Regions from separate parts of the Homo sapiens genome. Here all the other regions are linked to region 4. The links come from fine-mapping of genetic effects on gene expression. A gene starts in region 4. Each other region holds a variant in brackets. All regions are shown on one strand. Distances are from middle to middle. Region 1 overlaps PZP (PZP alpha-2-macroglobulin like). Region 2 holds the start of MIR1244-3 (microRNA 1244-3). Region 3 overlaps A2M (alpha-2-macroglobulin). Region 4 holds the start of A2M-AS1 (A2M antisense RNA 1).

The links. PIP is the estimated chance that this variant, and not a neighbour inherited with it, causes the effect.
Region 1: its variant is fine-mapped to the expression of A2M-AS1 in lung (TOPMed, PIP above 0.99).
Region 2: its variant is fine-mapped to the expression of A2M-AS1 in whole blood (TOPMed, PIP 0.99).
Region 3: its variant is fine-mapped to the expression of A2M-AS1 in prefrontal cortex (ROSMAP, PIP 0.95).

What each region holds. Positions count from the first base shown.
Region 1 is chr12:9,154,864-9,160,021 of GRCh38, reverse strand. It overlaps PZP (PZP alpha-2-macroglobulin like), which reads left to right. Exons shown (of 36, transcript NM_002864.3): 25 at 1-84; 26 at 1,446-1,602; 27 at 2,181-2,255; 28 at 2,667-2,847. It also overlaps a transcript of KLRG1 not described here and the pseudogene TPT1P12. Among named protein-coding and RNA genes, the nearest start is that of A2M, 42 kb to the right of the region's middle. The variant A/C (reference allele first, on the strand shown) is at 2,042.
Region 2 is chr12:9,236,119-9,241,276 of GRCh38, reverse strand. It overlaps MIR1244-3 (microRNA 1244-3), which reads left to right and starts at 1,726; the gene lies at 1,726-1,810. LINC00987 (long intergenic non-protein coding RNA 987) reads right to left here and starts at 1,204. Exons shown (of 7, transcript NR_137434.2): 1 at 738-1,204; 2 at 1-159. It also overlaps the pseudogene A2MP1 and the pseudogene PTMAP4. RefSeq lists an enhancer at 1-870. The variant C/A (reference allele first, on the strand shown) is at 2,462.
Region 3 is chr12:9,095,745-9,100,873 of GRCh38, reverse strand. It overlaps A2M (alpha-2-macroglobulin), which reads left to right. Exons shown (of 36, transcript NM_000014.6): 14 at 1,351-1,493; 15 at 2,118-2,267. It also overlaps a transcript of KLRG1 not described here. Among named protein-coding and RNA genes, the nearest start is that of A2M, 18 kb to the left of the region's middle. The variant A/T (reference allele first, on the strand shown) is at 2,425.
Region 4 is chr12:9,062,606-9,067,763 of GRCh38, reverse strand. A2M-AS1 (A2M antisense RNA 1) reads right to left here and starts at 2,587. Exons shown (of 2, transcript NR_137425.1): 1 at 2,536-2,587; 2 at 1-1,938. LINC00612 (long intergenic non-protein coding RNA 612) reads left to right here and starts at 2,694. Exons shown (of 3, transcript NR_034140.1): 1 at 2,694-3,496. It overlaps A2M (alpha-2-macroglobulin), which reads left to right. Exons shown (of 36, transcript NM_000014.6): 36 at 1-56. It also overlaps a transcript of KLRG1 not described here. RefSeq lists silencers at 3,199-3,248, 3,309-3,358.

The DNA of each region.
Region 1 (5,158 bases), 92 kb before region 4:
CCAGAGACAGCTGAACTACAAACACCAAGATGGCTCCTACAGCACCTTTGGGGAACGATATGGCAGGAACCAGGGCAACACTTGGTAAGAAAGAAAATCTATTCTGAGTTTCAACTATGAGTTCAGAACGTGCACATAGATTACCTGTCTTAGTCCATTTTCTGTTGCTTATAACAGAATACCTGAAACTAGGTAATTTATAAAGAAAAGAAATTTATTTCTTATAGCTATGAAGGCTGATAAGTCAAAAGTCTAGGGGCCGCATCTAGTTGAGAGTCTTCTTGCTGGTGTGGACTCTGAGGAGTCCCACGGTGATGCAGGGCATCATATGACTAGAGGATTGAATGGGCTCACTTGGGTCTCTCCTTCTCTTCTTTTCTTTTCTTTGTTTTACTTTGTAGAGACTGGGCTAGCATCTCCTCCTCTTCTTATGAAGCCACCAGTCCAACTGTCATGATAGCCCTTTAATCTAGGAATAGATTCATCCATTCATGAGAGCAGAACCCTCATGAGCCAATCACCTCTTAAAGGCTCCACCTCTCAATACTACCACATTGGGGATTAAGTTTTAACATGAGTTTTGGTGGAGAAACAATTTCTAAACCATAATGTTACCTTATTTAATTCTTATAGCTACCCTGGGAAGTGAGAGTTATTAGCTTCATTTTACAGAGGAGAAAACATATTCAGTGTGGATAAATAAATGTGTCAGGAGCAAACATCTAATAAGTGGCAAAATTGAGAACACTTTTAGGTTGATTTTTTTAATCCAATATACCCAGACCCTCTTCCTTCTCATGTTGCTAAGGGAACATTATAGGTTTGTAACTTGCCCCCTTAAATTGTTGCTCAGCCCTAAGAGGTGTTAGAAAAATGCTAGAATAAAACCACAACCATTACTGGCAGAGCATACCTTACTACCTTCTACTAGATGATATCCTTTCTCTCTCTCTCTTTGTAGTTTTACCACACAGGCAAACACAGGGGAAAAAAGTGGAAGGGCAGGATGATGGAGGGAAATATTTACTGAAGCAGAACATTAGAAGTTAGCTGATTAGAGTTAAAACTACAGAAAGTAAGCTAAGAAATCTAGGAAAGGAAATAAATTCATAGAGCCCACAGTGTAAAAGCAAATGACTTAGTTAACCAACCAAGAAAACTGGAAGGAACCTGAACCTCTGAAGTGGCATAGAAATGCTTTAGGAAGCAAGGACAAGCTGGTAATGAATTGAACAACATGTGGCAGCAAAAAAAAAAAAAAAAAGAAAAGAAAAGAAAAAAGAAAAAGAGATGTCTAAGCTAAAAAGAAAAAGTCTCCAAACTCTCAGTAACAGCTGATTGACTTTCTTGGGTGCACACTGTGATGGGGGAGCCTGTGTGTACAAAACAGAGCAGTAAAGTGCTCAATGAAAAGAGCCTCAGCACTGCATTTTTCCTCCCCCTAGGCTCACAGCTTTTGTACTGAAGACTTTCGCCCAGGCTCGATCCTACATCTTCATTGATGAAGCACACATTACCCAATCTCTCACGTGGCTCTCCCAGATGCAGAAGGACAATGGCTGTTTCAGGAGCTCTGGGTCACTGCTCAACAATGCCATAAAGGTGAACTGTTCCACAAACTTCTGAGCCTGACACACATCAACATAACATCCCCCAGGGGTGAAGGGAGGAAGGAGGCACAAGGAAATTGCAAAGATGAAGTCCTGGATGATGTGGGATGGCATCAGGGAAAGAGTATTACACTTTCTACAGAGAAGGAAGAAATTGGGCCAGATGCAGTGGATCACACGTAGAATCACAGCACTTTGGGAGGCCAAGGCAGGTGGATCACTTGAGCCCAGGAGTATAAGACTAGCCTGGGCAACATAGCAAGACCCAGTCTCTACAAAAAACATTTTACAAAATTAGCCAGGCATGGTGGCCTGTGCCTGTAGTTGCAGCTACTTGACAAGCTGAGGCAGCAAAATTGCTTGAGCCTAGGAGCTTGAGGCTGTCATGTGTGATAGTGCTACTGCACTCCAGCCTGAGCTACAGAGCAAGA[A/C]CCTGTCGAGAGAGAGAGAGAGAAGGAAATGGTATACTTTGAATGGAAACAGATACTGAGGAGCGTTTCCATCAAACAACAGAAGAGAATATACTAACACTTGGCACTGGAATTAATCAAATCAATGTTGTATTCACAGGGAGGTGTAGAAGATGAAGCGACCCTCTCCGCCTATGTTACTATTGCCCTTCTGGAAATTCCTCTCCCAGTCACTGTAGGTACCAGCTCAATCCCATTCCCTACCATGAAAACTGTAGATTTGCTGTCTGGAATGCCACCCTGCTAAGGGTTGAGTCTCAAGTATCTTTTGGTTCAATGATGAGGGATTTCTCAGACTGATAAGCTCTTTGGTTGATGCATTAAGAGAGATTTACACTTGCCCAGTAATGCCCATAGACTATGTATCAAAACCAATCCTAAAAACAGGTTCTCTAGTCTTATTCTTTAAGACTGAACTATAAAGGGAAGAGATCGAAATATTTTTCTATTTAAATATGATGAATATCTAGCTGTCTGCCTATCTGTCTGAAATCTATTAATAACATCTGACTGTCAATATCCAGCTCTCAGCTTGCTCTGCCCTCTATTCACCCTAGTTTGACACAACCACATTTTGCCTTTACAGAACCCTATTGTTCGCAATGCCCTGTTCTGCCTGGAGTCAGCCTGGAATGTAGCAAAGGAGGGGACCCATGGGAGCCATGTCTACACCAAGGCATTGCTGGCCTATGCTTTTTCCCTACTGGGAAAGCAAAATCAGAATAGAGAAATACTGAACTCACTTGATAAGGAAGCTGTGAAAGAAGGTGAGAGCACTTATAAGTGGGAGCTGAACAATGAGAACACATAGACACAGGGAGGGGAACAGCACACATTGGGGCCTGTCTGGGAGGTGCGGAGAGGGAGAGCATCAGGATAGATAGCTAATGCATGGGGGACCTAATAACCAGGTGATGGGCTGATACATGCAGCAAACCACCATGGCACACCTATGTAACAAACCTGCACATCCTGCACATGTACCCCAGAACTTAAAATAAAATAACATTTAAAAAATAAATAAATAAATAGATAAATAATAAAAGTTTTTTTAAAAACTGTGCAAAAAAAGGTGAGAGCAAACAGCAAATGGTACCAAATTTCCATTTCCATTTACACTGATTCTACAAAAAGAAGAAATATATTCCTTCTGAAATCCACAAGCTTCATCTGTAATTCCTTAGCCAAGTCATACATTGTGAGATCAGAGCACCTCTTATAAAACTGTCTTCTCTGGGATTGCATATGTTACACAGAGCAGAACATAATAGACATAATGCTGCAGATAAATAATGCAGTTTTATTTCTACTTGCTAAAACCAATATAATAGACAAATAGATTCATTTTCTCATGATTTCTCTCTACTTACTTGAATGAAAAGAGGTACAACAGCTCTTCCATACCCCCTAAATTCCCACCCAATGCCGTCCTGGCTGCACCATGCTCACTTCATGCTCTGGGCTTCTCCTAAGCTAGTGCTGCTATAGTCTCCTTTCAGCTACCATCATAATTATCTACCAGGATCTCATCAGCCACGCTGAGATGTTCTCTGACATTTACAAGATCCAGAGATGGAGGAAGGACTGTGCCTGGAGGTGGAGGGGAAGATGGTCAGTAGGACAAAGGGTGACATTGATGACTCGCTTATTGGTGGAGATGCCTTCACTGAAGTTTCCCAAAGCGAAGGTACTGGAAGCAGAGTAATCATTGGTGTTGATATTGTCATGAACAATCACTTGCAGGAACTGACTTCACAAAAGAAGCCTACAAGAAGTACATCAAAGCTGACATAAAATCAAAGACAAACTTAAAGAACAGAGACCAGAAACAGTAAAACCTTTTATAACAGGAGCTGCAGAACAAATCAAGCACACTCTTTCTAATCTCAGAAACTACCAGTTCTTCATTTGATCTTAGCCAAAAGGTCAAGAAGCAATAAAAACTACCAGTTCTTTATTGGTGAAAACATGAACCCATATGGCATGCTGCCTCTGCTGGACTACCATGAGGATGGTGTGACTCCATAGATGATTTTCCATGGTTTAGAAATGGAAAAATGTTAACAAATTTGGCAGTTACTTTGGATGTATCACCTGTCATAACTGGCTTCTGCTTGTCATCCATACAACACCAGGACTTAGACAAGTAGAACTGATGTCATCTTGAGATCTTCATTTATTTTGACCATGATTTATTTGGAGCAGAGGCATTGTTTTTAAGGAAAAAATGTCATAGAGGTTGTCTAAAAACAAAATGCATTCAAACTCATTTGAAAGAGTGTCATTTAGTTTAGTACATATTTAAACTCAATCTATCTTGTAGTGTTCTTGGAGAAACTAGAGTCTGGTTGTAGACCACTACTAGAAAGAACACAACTGCCATGAGATAACTTCTACAGTGGAAACTATTTCTGAGTATGGAGTACAAAAACAACAACAACAACAACAATAACAACAACAAAAAACAAAACAAGAATCAAAAGTTTTAATTCTGAGTTGAATTAGCAGGAAAGAACATGCTTATAGCAGTGCCAACATTTGAAGTGGTGCCTTATACATTTCATCACCTACAATGGAAGTAGTTAACTCTGGAAGAGGTTACAAAACAACAAAAACGGACTGATTCAGTTGGAGAGAAAAAAAAAGAAAGAAAAGAGGTACAACAAACAGAAAATGCAATAACATTTTCAAACTATTTTTATCTCTATTTGCCAGAGAGAGCATCACAAAAGTCACATGAGGTCAATAGTTAAGTTTTATATTCTAGTCTATACTGCAATTCTCAGAAAATATCACGAACAATAAAAGAACTCTCTCTACCACTTTTCTCTTTCATCAGTCCAACTAAAATAACATTGGAGAGATTGGTGAGTATGCTCTATGCTTCTTCCTCCATCAACCTACCCTACCTTCGTACCACAGGACTAAATCAAGTTCAGCATAGAAGTGTGAGTTAGTGAGTTTTAGGAGTTTATGACATAGAAGACCTTGCTTCTCCTGTATTATTTTCAGCTCCATGTATTATGAATGTGCATTCTCTTATCTACCAGTTATAATTACTTATTGATGAGTTACAAT
Region 2 (5,158 bases), 170 kb before region 4:
GGTTGTGACTCCGAAGTCACTGGGTGAGTAGTAATGCTATTAGCAAATTCCACTTCGTGTGCTTGGATGATTTGTTTTCTGCACTGACCCCAATACACACTTTTTCTCCTCCTTTAATATTAATCAAGAGGAAGACAACCACTGGATACACTGGGGAAACTGGAAAAGAAGAAACTGTTCAATATAGAATCACCGTTTAACTCTTAAGAACTTTATTCCCCAGGAAAGGTGAATTTCACAGCCACTGCGGAAGCCATGCATTCTCAGGAAGTGTGTGACAATGAGTTGACTGACGTCCCACCACTTGCGCAGAAGGACACTGTAGTCAAGGCCTTACTAGTTGAGGTACGTAAGTCTACTCTCTGTGAGTCTCAGAGCCCTTATTATTTCATACAGTATTATCTAACATGCATCTCACAGTGACATTTAATTCCCAAGAATGTGGATAGATCTACAATCCAATTTTTCACCACCATTTTCTCCTTTGCTTTCAAGTGTTTAATTTTTCTTTTATACATTCAGTATCGCTTTACTTTTTTTTTTTTTTTTTGTCAATATAAAGCCTGAAGGAATAGCAAAGGAGGAAACTTTCAACACGCTGCCCTGTGCATCAGGTAAGTGTAATATATAGAGAAAAATTTCATGTTAAGTGACTTGCCAGAGTATGCAGTTGTGGAATGTCTTTTGGGGGCATGCTTTTCTCTGAGAGAGAGAGAGAAAAAAAAAACAACTCTTACCCTCCTCCAAATCTAAGGACATTTGATGAAAAACATTGTCCTGCCCCACTGGCTGCTCTGAAAAGCCGTCTTTGCATTGTGCGTCGTCAGCCTCCTTGCTCGCCGCAGCCGCCTCCGCCGCCGCGGACTCCGGCAGCTTTATCGCCAGAGTCCCTGAACTGTCGCTTTCTTTTTTATCCCCTGCATCGCGTCACCGGCGTGCCCCACCATGTCAGACGCAGCCGTAGACACCAGCTCCGAAATCACCACCGAGGACTTAAAGGAGAAGAAGGAAGTTGTGGAAGAGGCGGAAAATGGAAGAGACGCCCCTGCTCACGGGAATGCTAATGAGGAAAATGGGGAGCCGGAGGCTGACAACGAGGTAGATGAAGAAGAGGAAGAAGGTGGGGAGGAAGAAGGTGATGGTGAGGAAGAGGATGGAGATGAAGATGAGGGAGCTGAGTCAGCTACGGGCAAGCGGGCAGCTGAAGATGATGAGGATAACGATGTCGATACCCAGAAGCAGAAGACCGACGAGGATGACCAGACGGCAAAAAAGGAAAAGTTAAACTAAAAAAAAAAGGCCGCCGTGACCTATTCACCCTCCACTTCCCGTCTCAGAATCTAAACGTGGTCACCTTCGAGTAGAGGGGCCCGCCCGCCCACCGTGGGCAGTGCCACCCGCAGATGACACGCGCTCTCCACCACCCAACCCAAACCATGAGAATTTGCAACAGGGGAGGGAAAAAGAACCAAAACTTCCAAGGCCCTGCTTTTTTTTTTTCTTAAAAGTAGTTTAAAAAGGAAACTTGTATTTTTTATTTACATTTTATATTTTTGTACATATTGTTAGGGTCGGCCATTTTTAATGATCTCGGATGACCAAACCAGCCTTCGGAGCGTTCTCTGTCCTACTTCTCACTTTACTTGTGGTGTGGCCATGTTCATTATAATCTCAAAGGAGAAAAAAAAAACTTGTAAAAAATGCAAAAATGACAACAGAAAAACCATCTTATTCCGAGCATTCCAGTAACTTTTTTGTGTATGTACTTAGCTGTACTATAAGTAGTTGGTTTGTATGAGATGGTTAAAAAGGCCAAAGATAAAAGGTTTCTTTTTTTTCCTTTTTTGTCTATGAAGTTGCTGTTTATTTTTATTTTTTGGCCTGTTTGATGTATGTGTGAAACAATGTTGTCCAACAATAAACAGGAATTTTATTTTGCTGAGTTGTTCTAGCAAAAAAAAAAAGAAAAAAAAAAGAAAAACATTGTTCTGATGAAAATCACTTGGAATGAGCCTCTTAGGGAAATAAATAGAAAGTACTTTTTAGGATAAATTATTATTATTGTATTTTAAGAATAAAGAAATGGGCATAGAGAAATAAAAGACTTGCTTAAAAGCTTAAAAGCTCTTGCCTAATAATAAGGTCTAAGGCTGTTGACCTCAGGACAGGATTCTTTCTGATACCTCTGTGTTTCTCAAATGTCTTCCTAAACCATGTTCAAAATATTGAAATATCTGTGTGACACTAGTATGATTTACTGTTCAATTGACAGTTTAAATGCACTCATGTTTTTACTTAAACAAGTTATTTTAAGAGGAACTCCAGGTTACTAACTTGTATAGAAAACCAGTATTTTACCAATATCATTAATATAGCAATACAAAAATTACCACTATATTGAAAGAGAAGGGGAAAAGCTAACACTTTTTTAAGTTTATTTAAATTATCATTAAAAACCCAA[C/A]TCTGTGCCACCTATAATCATCTTGACGATAATGCTCAGTCTGCAGATCTCTCTTCTCTATACGAGGATCCCTTGATAAAATCATCTAGTCAATGGCTTTAATAACAACTATGTACTTGTGTCCAAAACTGTACAACTTTGATCCACACCTTTTTCCTGAACTCAAACTCATGTATTCAACTGCCCACTCTCCACTTACAGGCTTGTAGGTCTCATAGGCATATCAAAATCAGCAAGTTTAAGACTGAGTATCTGCTCGTCCTCACAAACCTGCTCCTCCCTCAATTTCCTTCATCTCAGATGATGAAAAATCCATTCTTCTATTTGCTAGGGAGAAACACTTTGGAGTTCTTTACTACATTCTTTCCCCTATCTTCCCTACCCAATCCATGCACAAATCTAGTCGATTCCACCTTCAAATTGCATCCAGAATCTACCCACTTCTCTCCATCTCTACTATTCTAGTCCTTTCTCTTGCAGGCTCTCAATAGCTTTCTAACTGGTCTCCTGATCATCTCTTCTTGTTCCCCTTCAGCGAGAGGGATCCTTTAAAACATGTGTCAGATCGTGTCCCTCCTCTTCTCTAACCCTTTCAGGAATCTCCCATATCCCCCCTAAGTTAAAGCGTAAGTTTTTAATGCCACTTAGAAACCCTTGCTACCCCATGACTTCACGTCTTCCTAATCTCTCCTTCGCTTAACCCGTTCCGGCCACACTGACCTCTTTCTTCCTATTGGAATACACCCAGCATGCTTCAGTCTCTGGAGTCCTTTTACTTTTTGTTCCTTTTTCCTGGAAGTATCTTCCCCCAGGTTTGGATAAATCTGGCTCCTTGACTTACTTAAAGTCTCTGCTCACACAGGACTTTTTATCAATGAGCTTTTCCATAGGGAGCCCCCTCCCCACTTCCTGACCTGCCTTGTTTTACTAGCTCACCATAGAAACACTTGCCCTGCTTTAATTTTCTCTATAGCACTTATCAACATCTAGTATACTAAATATACTCTTGCTTTTTTATCGTAGTCTTCCCCTAAAAATGAAATCTCCAGGAGGCCAGGAAATTTGTTTTGAAACTTTCGGTATCATTGCACTTAGAACCTGGTACATAGTATACACTGAATACAAATGAATGGAATGAATGTAATTCTTGAAAAGCACTAACAGTAGCAGGAATTAATATAAACCATGAAGAGAAGGAAATAAGCATACCATAAGTATATGCCCATAGGAAAAGCCATAGAAATTTAGCACAAATGTATATGATGAATATGAATTTCACTGAGAGATGAATCATGGCTTTAAGGGAAACTTGGATTGTATCAAAGAAATTATGTAATAACTGAGCCAGGCATGGTGACTCACACCTGTAATCTCAGCAGTTGGGGAGATGGAGGCAGGCAAATCGCTTGAGATCAGAAGTTCAAGACCAGCCTGGCCAACTCTGTCTCTATAAAAAATACAGAAATTAGCCAGGTGTGGTGGTGCATGCCTGTAATCCCAGATACTTAGGTGGCTGAGGCACAAGAATCATTTGAACCTGGGAAGCAGAGGTTGCAGTGAGATCACGCCACTGTTCTTCAGCCTGGGTGACAGAGGGAGACTCTATCACAAAAAAAAAAAAAAAAAAAAAGTTATATAATGACGAAGGAAAATAAAAGGTTGGATCTAGATGATGTAGAGAAACATGATTCATAACAAAAATAGAACATTTCTCTCACTTTCCCCTCCTTTATATGTGTGTTTTTCTTCTTTCATTAGATACTGGAGTACCTGAAAAGGTGTCACTGAATGTTCCTTCAAATGTGGTTGAAGGATCTCCAAGGGCAACATATTCAGTTTTAGGTGATTCTTTCAGCCCAAGGGAAGCAGCTGTCTGGCTGTATAATTCTAGTGCATGGGCCTCACCATCCACGATTAATGAAGTTTCTGACAACAGGCAATGGATTGAGAGAAAGCACTAAGGGTTACACTATGTTACAGTTGGAAAGGGGCTTGAATAGATGTTGTGCTACATATTATGCCTTGATATATTCTAAAAAGAAAGGGTCACCTCTCAGTGCCCTCATCTTCAAGCAATTTACTAGGTGGTAATGCTTCCTAGTCAGTTTGAAAATGGTTGTGGTTGAGTTTTACCAGACATGTGGCCCATGAGAAAAGATAGATCACCTACCATTCAGTTTCTTCCCCCCTTTCTCCATCCTTAAACCGTCTATTTTCTCACCTTTTGTTTTCCTCCCTATTTCTTGTTTTTTCACCTTTTTTAGTCTTCTTGTCCTTTTCTCTATAGGTTATTTGGCCTCTCAGTTAGCTAATAATCTATTTTCCTAGCCTAATACAAACCATATCTGATTTCTTTACAACTTTTATTCCACAGGTGATATACTAGGCTCTGTAGTGCAAAACCTTCAGAACCTTCTTCAGATGCCCTATGGTTGTGGAGAGCAGAATATGGTCCTTTTTGTCCCTAACATTTATGTTCTAAACTATCTAAATGAGACACGACAGCTGACAGAGAAGATCAAGGCCAAAGCCACTAGCTACCTCATCAGTGGTGAGAGATTACCTCAAAAAGAAGAGCCATAATCTCTTAAATATTTTTTGGTGAACGAAAATCAACATCTGTTTCATTAAGATTCGATAGTCATTGTCGTGATTTTCAATAAAATGTCCCAATATACAAGTAGAAAATTCAATAGT
Region 3 (5,129 bases), 33 kb before region 4:
ATTCTTATGCCTTTGCATCCTCATAACTTAGCTCCCACTTCCTAATAGCTTAGCTGCCACTTCCTAATAGCTTAGCTCCTACTTCTGAGTGAGAAGATATGATGTTTGGTTTTCCATTCCTGAGCTGGGAATATCAGGAATACTTTCAAGTAACGAGAGACCATTTCCATCTAATATTAATTAAAAGAAAGTTGAGGGAGGGAAAACAATAATGGTTTTTTTCTCACCCTTTATCAAATATGTGTTGTCTTTTTTTTCAGCCTATTTTCTTTGCGTTATTTAAAATATTGGTGTGGGCCAGCTATGATGGCTTACGCCTGTAATCCCAGTACTTTGGGAGAACGGGATGGGAGGATCTCTTGAGGTCAGGAGTTTGAGACCAGCCTGGTCAACATAGTGAGACCCCATCTCTATAAAAGTAAATAAATAAATAAATAAATAAATAAGAACAAAGGGGGAAAAATAAAATACATAAAATATTGTTGTGTATAATCTATGCTTATTCCAGATTTTTAAACCATAAATATTCTTGAACCTCTTCTCAAAATGAGAATTGTGTTAGAGAATGGGGTGGAGAAAATGTACGATTTCAAGGTATGTTGTATATACCAGGTCTTGTGCTGAGTCATTTATGTCATTTATATTATTATAAATATCTTTTTTCCCTTTCAAGATAGTTATGATTTATGAAGCATTAAATTGGGTACTTCTACCGACTGAAGCGGACTCTTGCCATGAGCAAATATGTCATAATATAAACCTTTGAAGGTTGCTCCTAGTCTAGTAGACTCTAAAAGATAACTTGCTAGAAAAGTATCAGTAATCTACTCTCTCATTAGTTCTTGTAGCAACACAGAAGCACCATAGCAGACTGAAGGAAACTTAATGCAACCTCTAAAGAATCTACATAGGCATCAAAAAATAACTTCTGAAGGAGCATGGTGTTCCTCTTATGGAGAAAGAACCAAATATTGGCTCATAGAAGGTTAAAGAGCATGTAGCATGAATACAATGTGTTGAACTCTTACTCTTACATCTCATAACTTCAGGTTCTATTTCCCTCTTCTAGTATGAGGCCTAGATCAAATGGTAGTGAATTGGATGTCTTCATACCCTTAACTAGCATCAGAACATTAGGTGGGTGAGCTGAAGCTTAAAGCTGGTGAAAAATCAACAGAGTATATGATTTATGAGAGGAGAGAGGGCTTTGATAGGGTTTTTTTCTAAAGCTAGAGTCCTTAGAGGTAATCATCCATTTGTTACATCTACTGTTTATTATGTCTGTTACATCTACTAATGGAAATAGTCATTAACCTATGATGGCTTCCTCTCATTCTCTTTGTGCCCCAGTGAAGGGCCATTTTTCCATCTCAATCCCTGTGAAGTCAGACATTGCTCCTGTCGCTCGGTTGCTCATCTATGCTGTTTTACCTACCGGGGACGTGATTGGGGATTCTGCAAAATATGATGTTGAAAATTGTCTGGCCAACAAGGTGTGTGTTTTAGATCATAAAATCTTCAACATGTAAAACTAGAAGTTACTATTGTTATCATTTGTTTTACACATGTGAACATTAGGGCCAAAAGGGTTAAACAAATTCCCCAGAGACATTCAGCAAGGTAGTGGCAGAGTCACACTAAGAAGCAGAATCACTTGATTCCTTATACAAAACTCTCAAACTTCTCCTAGCAGTGCCTCTTACCAATTACACAGTTCAGAGTATGTTATTCCCTTCTTCTATGATGAAACGTTGGGAAATATGTAAGCAAGTTTTTAAGACTACTAAGGAGCCAAAAGAAAAATGCAAGAGCACCTAGACCCATGCATGTCCCACCACAATTAATGAGCACCTTGCCGTGTATCAAAGATAAAAATGGCATTTCATGACTAGTAATTTATAAGAATAATTAGAAATAATTCTACTGGCTCAAGTGATTCTTGAGAATGAAAGAGAAGTGTAGGGAACAAAAAGCTTCAGGATTGACACAATGCCAACCCTCCACGAAGTCAAGCAGAGTGGTTATACATTGTACATGAGGAACACTCTGCAAATGCGAGTGAATGCATGGGTAAACCTGGAAATTTGCTTTTCTGACCTTTTGTTCCAATTTCACAGGTGGATTTGAGCTTCAGCCCATCACAAAGTCTCCCAGCCTCACACGCCCACCTGCGAGTCACAGCGGCTCCTCAGTCCGTCTGCGCCCTCCGTGCTGTGGACCAAAGCGTGCTGCTCATGAAGCCTGATGCTGAGCTCTCGGCGTCCTCGGTGAGTTCCTGGCAGCCTCAGGAATCAAGAAGGGCCGTGCCAGGGGCTCAGAGCAAGGAAAAATGACTGGATAAGTAGGATAAGATCAATTAAAATTATATTTATCTAGGAATTAATTGCTTTGAGCTCTCTTGTGGGCTTTCATTGGTAAGGAATT[A/T]TATATATATATATATATAACTACTCACTTCTGCAGTTAAAAAAATAAACAAAATACAATATATTGAATCAAATAAAAGAATTTTTAAAAGGACAAAATGTGATGAAAATTAACAACCAAAAAAGGACTCGTTATTCAGACACGTTAAGCTTCTTGCTCAAGAGCACATAGCAATACAAATTCAAATCTTCTGATTGTGTCAGGACATCCGTATATGCAAGGCTGGAGAGAATACAGAGCAGATTGTGAAAAGTGCTATATGAGAAGTGCAGTTATGCAAAATAAAAGAAAGGATTAACTGAGCAACCGGGGAAGCCGTTCGAAAATTATATATTTAAAATGTAAAAAGACCATACAGTACCCAAAGTCCTTAAAATCCCAGAGCTCCATGCAACCAGTAATAGGAGTTGTCAAACTAGTTTCAACATTTCAAAAAGCCTAACAAAAGTGATACATATACCTGCACTGAGGCTATACAGGCTAAATGAAATATCAGATTTCCGTTTTTATAAGAATTATGGCTGGGCCTGGTGGCTCACGCCTGTAATCCCAACACTGGGAGGCCAAGGCAGGCAGATAACTTGAGATCAGGAGTTTGAGACCAGTCTGGCCAATATAATGAAACCCCGTATCTACTAAAAATACAAAAATTAGTCAGACGTGGTGGCGGGCGCCTGTCATCCCAGCTACTCAGGAGGCTGAGGCAGGAGAATCACTTGAACCCAGGAGGCAGAGGTTGAGTGAGCCGAGATCGTGCCACTGCACTCCAGCCTGGGCAATAGAGCAAGACTTGGTGTCAAAAAAAAAAAAAAAAAAAGAATTACATCAGTTGAAATAATTGCTGTCCCAAGCTACACATAATTTCTGAGGGAACATATGTATTATCTCTGAGGAACAAAACTTAGGGAAATTGAACTACTATATAATTGACATTGATAACTGAACTCTTTGAAAATATGGAGCTAATAGAAGAAATACCAAAAGGATATGCTGAATTGGAACAACAAAAACTAGTTAATAGCATGTACTAATAGTAGTTTGCTCACATCTTCAAATTTTTAATATGAGACCAATTGTAATAACCTCTTACTGAAGCTTTTTCTACTACCATAATTTAACAAAGAGAAATTTATATTTTTATTTTCCTGAAATAGAAACTTATAAAAAAATGTTTCTTACTTGTTTGTCCTTCTAATGGGATTTTAACTGAAAATATTAGAATACTTCTAAAGGAAGCATCAAGTACATTTCAACAGTAGGATCTCAAGAGGATATGTGGGAAAATAATATACATGTTTTATACTTTTATAATATAATTTTATAATTCTCAAAGAATTTTTCAAATTATAACAACCCTGATGGGTAGATAAGGCAGACAGTCCTATTTATTAATAATAAAGCAGAAGCTTTCAGGGATTTAGTAGTAGACCTGAGTTAAAACACCAACTCTTCTCAAGCTTTGATTAGTGTCTTACCAATGAAACACTTTGCTGCTACTAGTGTAGGTCATTCATTCAACACATTTATTTAATGCCCACTGTGTTCTAGGTATTATACTAAGTGCTAGTAGAGATCAAGCAGTGAGCTACTGGAAAGATAAAAATGTATGTCTCATGGAACTTACATTGTCTGTCCCATAGATGAGACAGACAATAATTATGCAATATGCCACAATAAAAGCAGGGAGAGGAAATGAGAAATGTTAAGATACTTTGAGAAAGTGTCTAATTTCATCACACCACTCACTTTGCTCATCTGTTCTTGTCAATCAGTTTTAAACTCCTACGAATATAATGCAATGTAACTATCACAATTTTTATGTCTGTCTTACTTCTCACCTTCAAATGGACTTGAAAGCATCATGCCTAGAATTTTACGGTTAAAGTTGTATGTATTATATGAAGATCTGGAGCATTTTGTTTCCACTAATAATACCTAAGAAAATGCCATCGTGTCCTGTGGAGAGAGGATATTCCTATTCGTGTGCCTGTTTAGAACATGCACCCATTAACTTTGCTATATACTGAGTCAGTTGCTCACCACAAGATAAGCACAAAACTATCATTTCCTTCTATCATCTCAAAGCTTTGTGCAATGTCACAAATACAGCAGACCTCGATTTTTCAATTAATAAAGTTTTATTTCATTCCAGTGTTGAGTCTAGTGGTGGCCTCTGAACTGTGTAACGAAGTAGTACTTAGTACTTAGATGAGTACTTAGATGGAGTGTTTGGTTTTTCCTAAAATTGTTAAACATCTTCAAAATGAAAACACTGTGTCAAGAAAATGATCCATACCCTCTATAAATCATCAAAGCAATGAGAGCGCTCAAAGAAAGACGGATGTTCATTATTCCTGTTCTTTTCTCCTTGAACTTAAAAAATGTCACAAAGGCCGGGCGCGGTGGCTCACGCCTGTAATCCCAGCACTTTGGGAGGCCGAGGCGGGTGGATCATGAGGTCAGGAGATCGAGACCATCCTGGCTAACAAGGTGAAACCCCGTCTCTACTAAAAATACAAAAAATTAGCCGGGCGCGGTGGCGGGCGCCTGTAGTCCCAGCTACTCGGGAGGCTGAGGCAGGAGAATGGCGTGAACCCGGGAAGCGGAGCTTGCAGTGAGCCGAGATTGCGCCACTGCAGTCCGCGGTCCGGCCTGGGCGACAGAGCGAGACTCCGTCTCAAAAAAAAAAAAAAAAAAAAAAAAAA
Region 4 (5,158 bases):
ACGTGTTTTTGTATCTTTAAAGACTTGATGAATAAACACTTTTTCTGGTCAATGTCTTTCCCTGTTTCCTGTTCATTCAATAAATATCATTGTACATTTCCATATGATTCCCAATAGAATACCAAGATTAAACTTAAAGGAATCAAGTGCTGAAGGACTTCAGAATACAAAAAAATGATACAGTGATGTCGGTCTGAGTAGGCTTCATGTAAGGACTGTGGGGAAAGAAGAAAGTATTGGGTTATGTACTAGGAAAGTGTAAAGTGTGTTTGGTTATGGGAATACCCTATGAAAAACCCAAAGGGTGAATTTTTATGAGAAAATAAAAGACTGACTTCACCAGAAAAGACTTTTTACATTAAAATGAAGTAGAATGAAATACAACATTGAACATGTCATATTGAGAGGCAAGATAATTGGGACTTGACCTGAATTGGGAGTGATGTGTCCTATGTTACACCAAAATCTGCCACTGATGAGAGTGATCAGTCAGTTAACCTGGGGTTTCAGATTCAATAATAGATGAGCTGAAAATAATGAAGGGAGGATTCATGCAGAAGCACGTTTTCTCAGAAGAAGGAATGTGTATGACTCAAAGTCCAAATAGGAGTATTATATTGGATCATCTTTCTTCTGGAACTTTGAGCCAGGATTAAAGGATAGCTGTAAAGTCAAGGAGATATTCTGATGCAGAAATCAGTTCTCACAACATCTGATTGATGTCTGATGTCTCACAACATCTCTTTAGTCTATTTTTAAAATATATAATTTTCTTTGCAGTAAGTATTGCGACATATATTTCCATTCTATAGAAGGGGAAGCAAAACTTCAGGAGTTTTTGAAGTAGGAAAGGTTAAAGCAGGAGGATTGAGCCAAGAGAGTCTGAGGACAATCGTAGGAGTCCTACTCTTCATTTGGCACAAAAATGACAATGCTTAGTTAGGCAGAAGGTGAGTATGGATTGTATAAACTAAGAACTGGAAAAGACTTTGCAGTTCAAGGAATCCTTAGCTCTGTCTCCAGGCTAGACAAAATAAGAAATAAAAGCTATCACTTCTGTGTGGTGCTTATAGAATAGAATTAACATATCAGCATTATGGGATCTTTAGGGTGTCGCTTTCCTGGCCAGTCTAGTGGCACCTTTGCCTGAGTTTTGCTCTGGGCCCACTGGGCTGCTTCTGCCCACTCGCACTTGCTACCAACCTGGATCCCGGATCCAAGGGAGATTGAGACGGGTGGAGCAGAGGGGTGTGCTAGGGGTGTGTGAGCAAGCGTGGCCACTGTGCAGTCACACACACAAGCTGCTGCCCAGGTTGGGCAGCTCCAGGTGCCAGCACAGGCTCTCCATGAGGTGGCTGGACCAGGCACACAACAAACAGCTTCCCCCTGGACCAGGCGCATCACAAGCAGCTTCCAACAGTGGCACTGGCGAATGCAGTGACGCCAACCAGGGCCCCAAAGAGGGAGTCACAGCCCGGGCTCAAGGAGCTCCCAGGTCTGGGCTTCTCCGAGGGCCAGAGCTCTTCTCTCCCTGTGGGGAGCAAGGGGCATGTTGCAGCCCTGTTTGTGTTACAGCTCTTTTAACCTTGCTGTGCAGCTCCTCAGCTCCTGCATCAAGCAGACAAGTGGAGAATGAGACAGATGAAGAGGAGCATTACTGAGCAATGGAACAGAAGGATAAGGAAGATGAAGAGGAAGGAGACCTGCAGTTAGTAGCTCATTTCCACAGTAAGGATGTCCTTTCCACAGCAAGGGTGTCCCAACGAGTGTTCAGCTTCTAGCAGAACGGAGACCCTGGAGTGGCTGGCTCCTCTCTGCAAACAGGTCTTCCCATTGAGTGTTCAGCTTTCAGCAGAGAGGAGGTTCTGGAATGGGTAGTTTCTCTCCACAGGTAGGTCATCCATTGTCTTCCCATCCTCTCTTCCAATCTAGCTGAGTCTGGGGGATTTTATGAGCCTCAGAGGGAGGAAATGCATGCTGATTGGTCCATGGGCAGCCATGAGTGGGCCCAGGGAGCAGCACCACAAGTTACCTCTCTGGTCTGCAGGCTTCAAGCCCTCACCAGCTTGAGGGTGGGACTTCACTGGGGACCCATCCCCTTCCACCCAGGAACCTGTCTGCCTCCTGCTCCCAGGCTGTTCATGCCAAGGAGCGCCTGCAAGTCAGTGTCCAGCTGTCTTCAGACCCCTCTCAGCCTCCCTCCCACGCTTGTTGGTGCCCAAGTTCCAAAGGGGGCCGAGACGGCAGGGGGCTGGCGTATCAGCACTGTCCTGAGCGTGTGCACGCTCGGCCAGGCTGTGACAGTACCCAGGCTCGGCCCGACCTTGCTCTGAGTTCAGAGTGGGTGCTAACAGTGGAGAGAAGCCAGGCAGCCGGAGTAGGCACCCTGGAGCCTGCAGTGGGCAGGGGACTTTGCTGGGCCTCTGAGAGCACAGAAAATGTCCACAGCCGCGGCAAGGTGGCTGCAGCTGCACCCTGGGAGCTCCTGCTCCACCAGTTCGGAAGGGGCGGGGCTCCTGCTTGTCCCTGGCTCACCTGCTCCTGAGTGTGCAGGTCCGGTGGCGCCTCCTTGCAGGCTGGGCTGATGGGCGGGGGCGGGGGGGGGGGGGGGGAGGAAGGGAATGTTCCAGGTCCTCCCTGGGCCCGGGACTGTGTCCGGGGCAGGGATGACGTCGCTGCAAGTTCTTCCCGTGGCCCCGGGGCTCAGGGGCAGCCCAGGACTCTCCCTCGCCCGGCTCACGGCCCTGCCTGGGGGGCGCCTCCGGGAGCAGATCACGAGCCCTGGGGCTCAGCCCTCAGGCGCGTCTAGCTCGGCGGTCACCCCAGTGCCGGGAGGACCCTGAAGACGCGCCCCAGGCGGCCCTACTCAGAGCCTCCTCCCAAGGCCCAGGAATGCGGCGCTGTCGGAGGTGTGCGCGGTGGCCACACCGCTGTCCGGGTCCCCAAAGCGGGCCCCGCTCCCACTTCTCGCCTTGGCCCCGAACCCTGGGTCCAGCCCCAGCGCTTTGTGTGCGAACACCGCTCCGCCCCGGACCCAGCTCCGCCTTGGGGCCCCTCTCTGCCTGCCCCTCCGTGCCCGACTACACTGCTTCCCCTCCGGCGGGCGACTCAGCCCGGTCCATCGTGGCGGCTTCCAGGGCGGCAGGCTCCGGGAGTACTCCCGGGGCCGGCTCCAAGGACTGTTCCCCTCCTCCCCACTCCCACTCCGCGGCGGCGGCGGGCGAGAGCGGCGACATAGGGCCAGGGTCCGGAGCGGTGGAGGCTCCTGGCCGGGGAGCACGTCGCCCCACCCGGCAACGCGAGGATGGTGGCGGCGCAGTCGGCTGCTTTGGGGTCTCAAGGCACAGGGGACGCGAGGCACAGATGTCCCACAGCAGCCACTGCGGCTCCCGCAGCTGCTCCGCCGCCGCTGCCCGCCCCTCCCTGCTGCAGCTGGCGTGATGGCAGCGGCAGCTCTGGACGCCCCACTGCTGCCACCATCAGCCTTGTGAAATAGGTACTACCTTAACAAATGAAATTGAAGCAGAGACATGTAATTTGCCCAAAGTTACTAAGTTAGTGACAAAGCTAGAATTCAAGACCAAGAAGTCTAGCTTCCATGCTCTTAACTTCCAACCATGGTGACACCTCAAACAACTTCAGACAAAAAGGCCAGGAGAAAGTATATTTCAGAGCTTAATAAACATTATAATTAGCTGTCAAATTAAGTATCAAGCCAGGGCACAGAACATAAAAGAAATCAGAGTATGGCTATGGGAACAAGACAACAGGATTATAATTTTACCTCTTGGTTCTAGTTTTTTTCTTTGTTCATATGGAAATCGTTACTGAAAAGGTACTTTAAGGATATGCTTGTTGCAAATCATTAGCTGTATCACTGACCAAGAGTGTTTATTCCTGAAATACTAACTGATTGCCTACTATCTGCCAGGCACAATATCCCATGCTATAATACAAAATTAAACAAAATAGGATTCCTCCCTTAGAAAAACTCACCGCAGAGTAAAAGAAAAAGATACACATCTGGGTCATTATAATGATCAGGTGCTCAAGCTATTCATTGCCCCAGTGGACTGGAGATACAATGGCCTTCTCAAGTTTTGGGGTATTACACTCAAATTCATATGTAATACTGGAGAAAAGGCCTAATTACAACTTAAACTGGATTTCCCACCAGCCTGGTGGCATGGGAATCTTGGAATTAAAATTACGTAGAATTTTTAAAAGTGATGTATCTTCTACATCTGATTTTGTGAACTGAAGTTTATTCTTTCCAGGAAAGCATATAGATACACGACAGGAAATGAAATGGATACTTGTTGGGGTCAGTTTTATGTATAGTTTGTATTTTATTTTGAAATATGATACACTGCTATTCTCTTGCATTTTCTTATATGTGACTCACCACTAACCCTATATTCCCCCATTTCAGGCCAGTTGGTCATAAGCATCCATTTGCCTCAGAGAATACTGGGTTGTTATGACAAGAATATAAAGTTGGAAAGAAATAGAATATTTGAGTCTACCCTGTAAGAATAAAAAGAATAAAAGGGGTTTAAATTTATTTAGACCCTATTGTTTAATCAAGAATTCTGGCCAGGAGCAGTGGTTCATGCCTATAATCCCAATGCTTTAGGAGGCCAAGGCAGGAGGATCATTTGAGGCCAAGAGTTTGAGACCAGCCTGGGCAAATTATTGCTCGGGAAAAAAAGGTCTTATTTAGTATTTTAGTCTTTACAATGTTTTTTTCTATTATGCAATATTCTCTCAAATACTTTATGTCCATCCACGTTGTCTGAGACATGCCACTTTAACATTCTAGTTATGCTGTAGCTGTCATTTTACCCTAAGCCGTTAGTAGTACTGATCCACATAAAATTGGGCTGTTTAGGTGTTTAACTGTTTAAATGTATAATATATCTGATATATTTATATATTGTATAAAAAATCACCTAACACAATAGATATTTACTATGTCTGCTATAAATATATATCATATAACATATAACAATATATTATAAATGATAATATACTATAATATAAAATATAATAAATATATTATAAATGTACAATATATCCGATATAAATATATAAATATGTCAACTATATTATACATATAAATGTATATGTATAATATATACATATATGTATAATACAA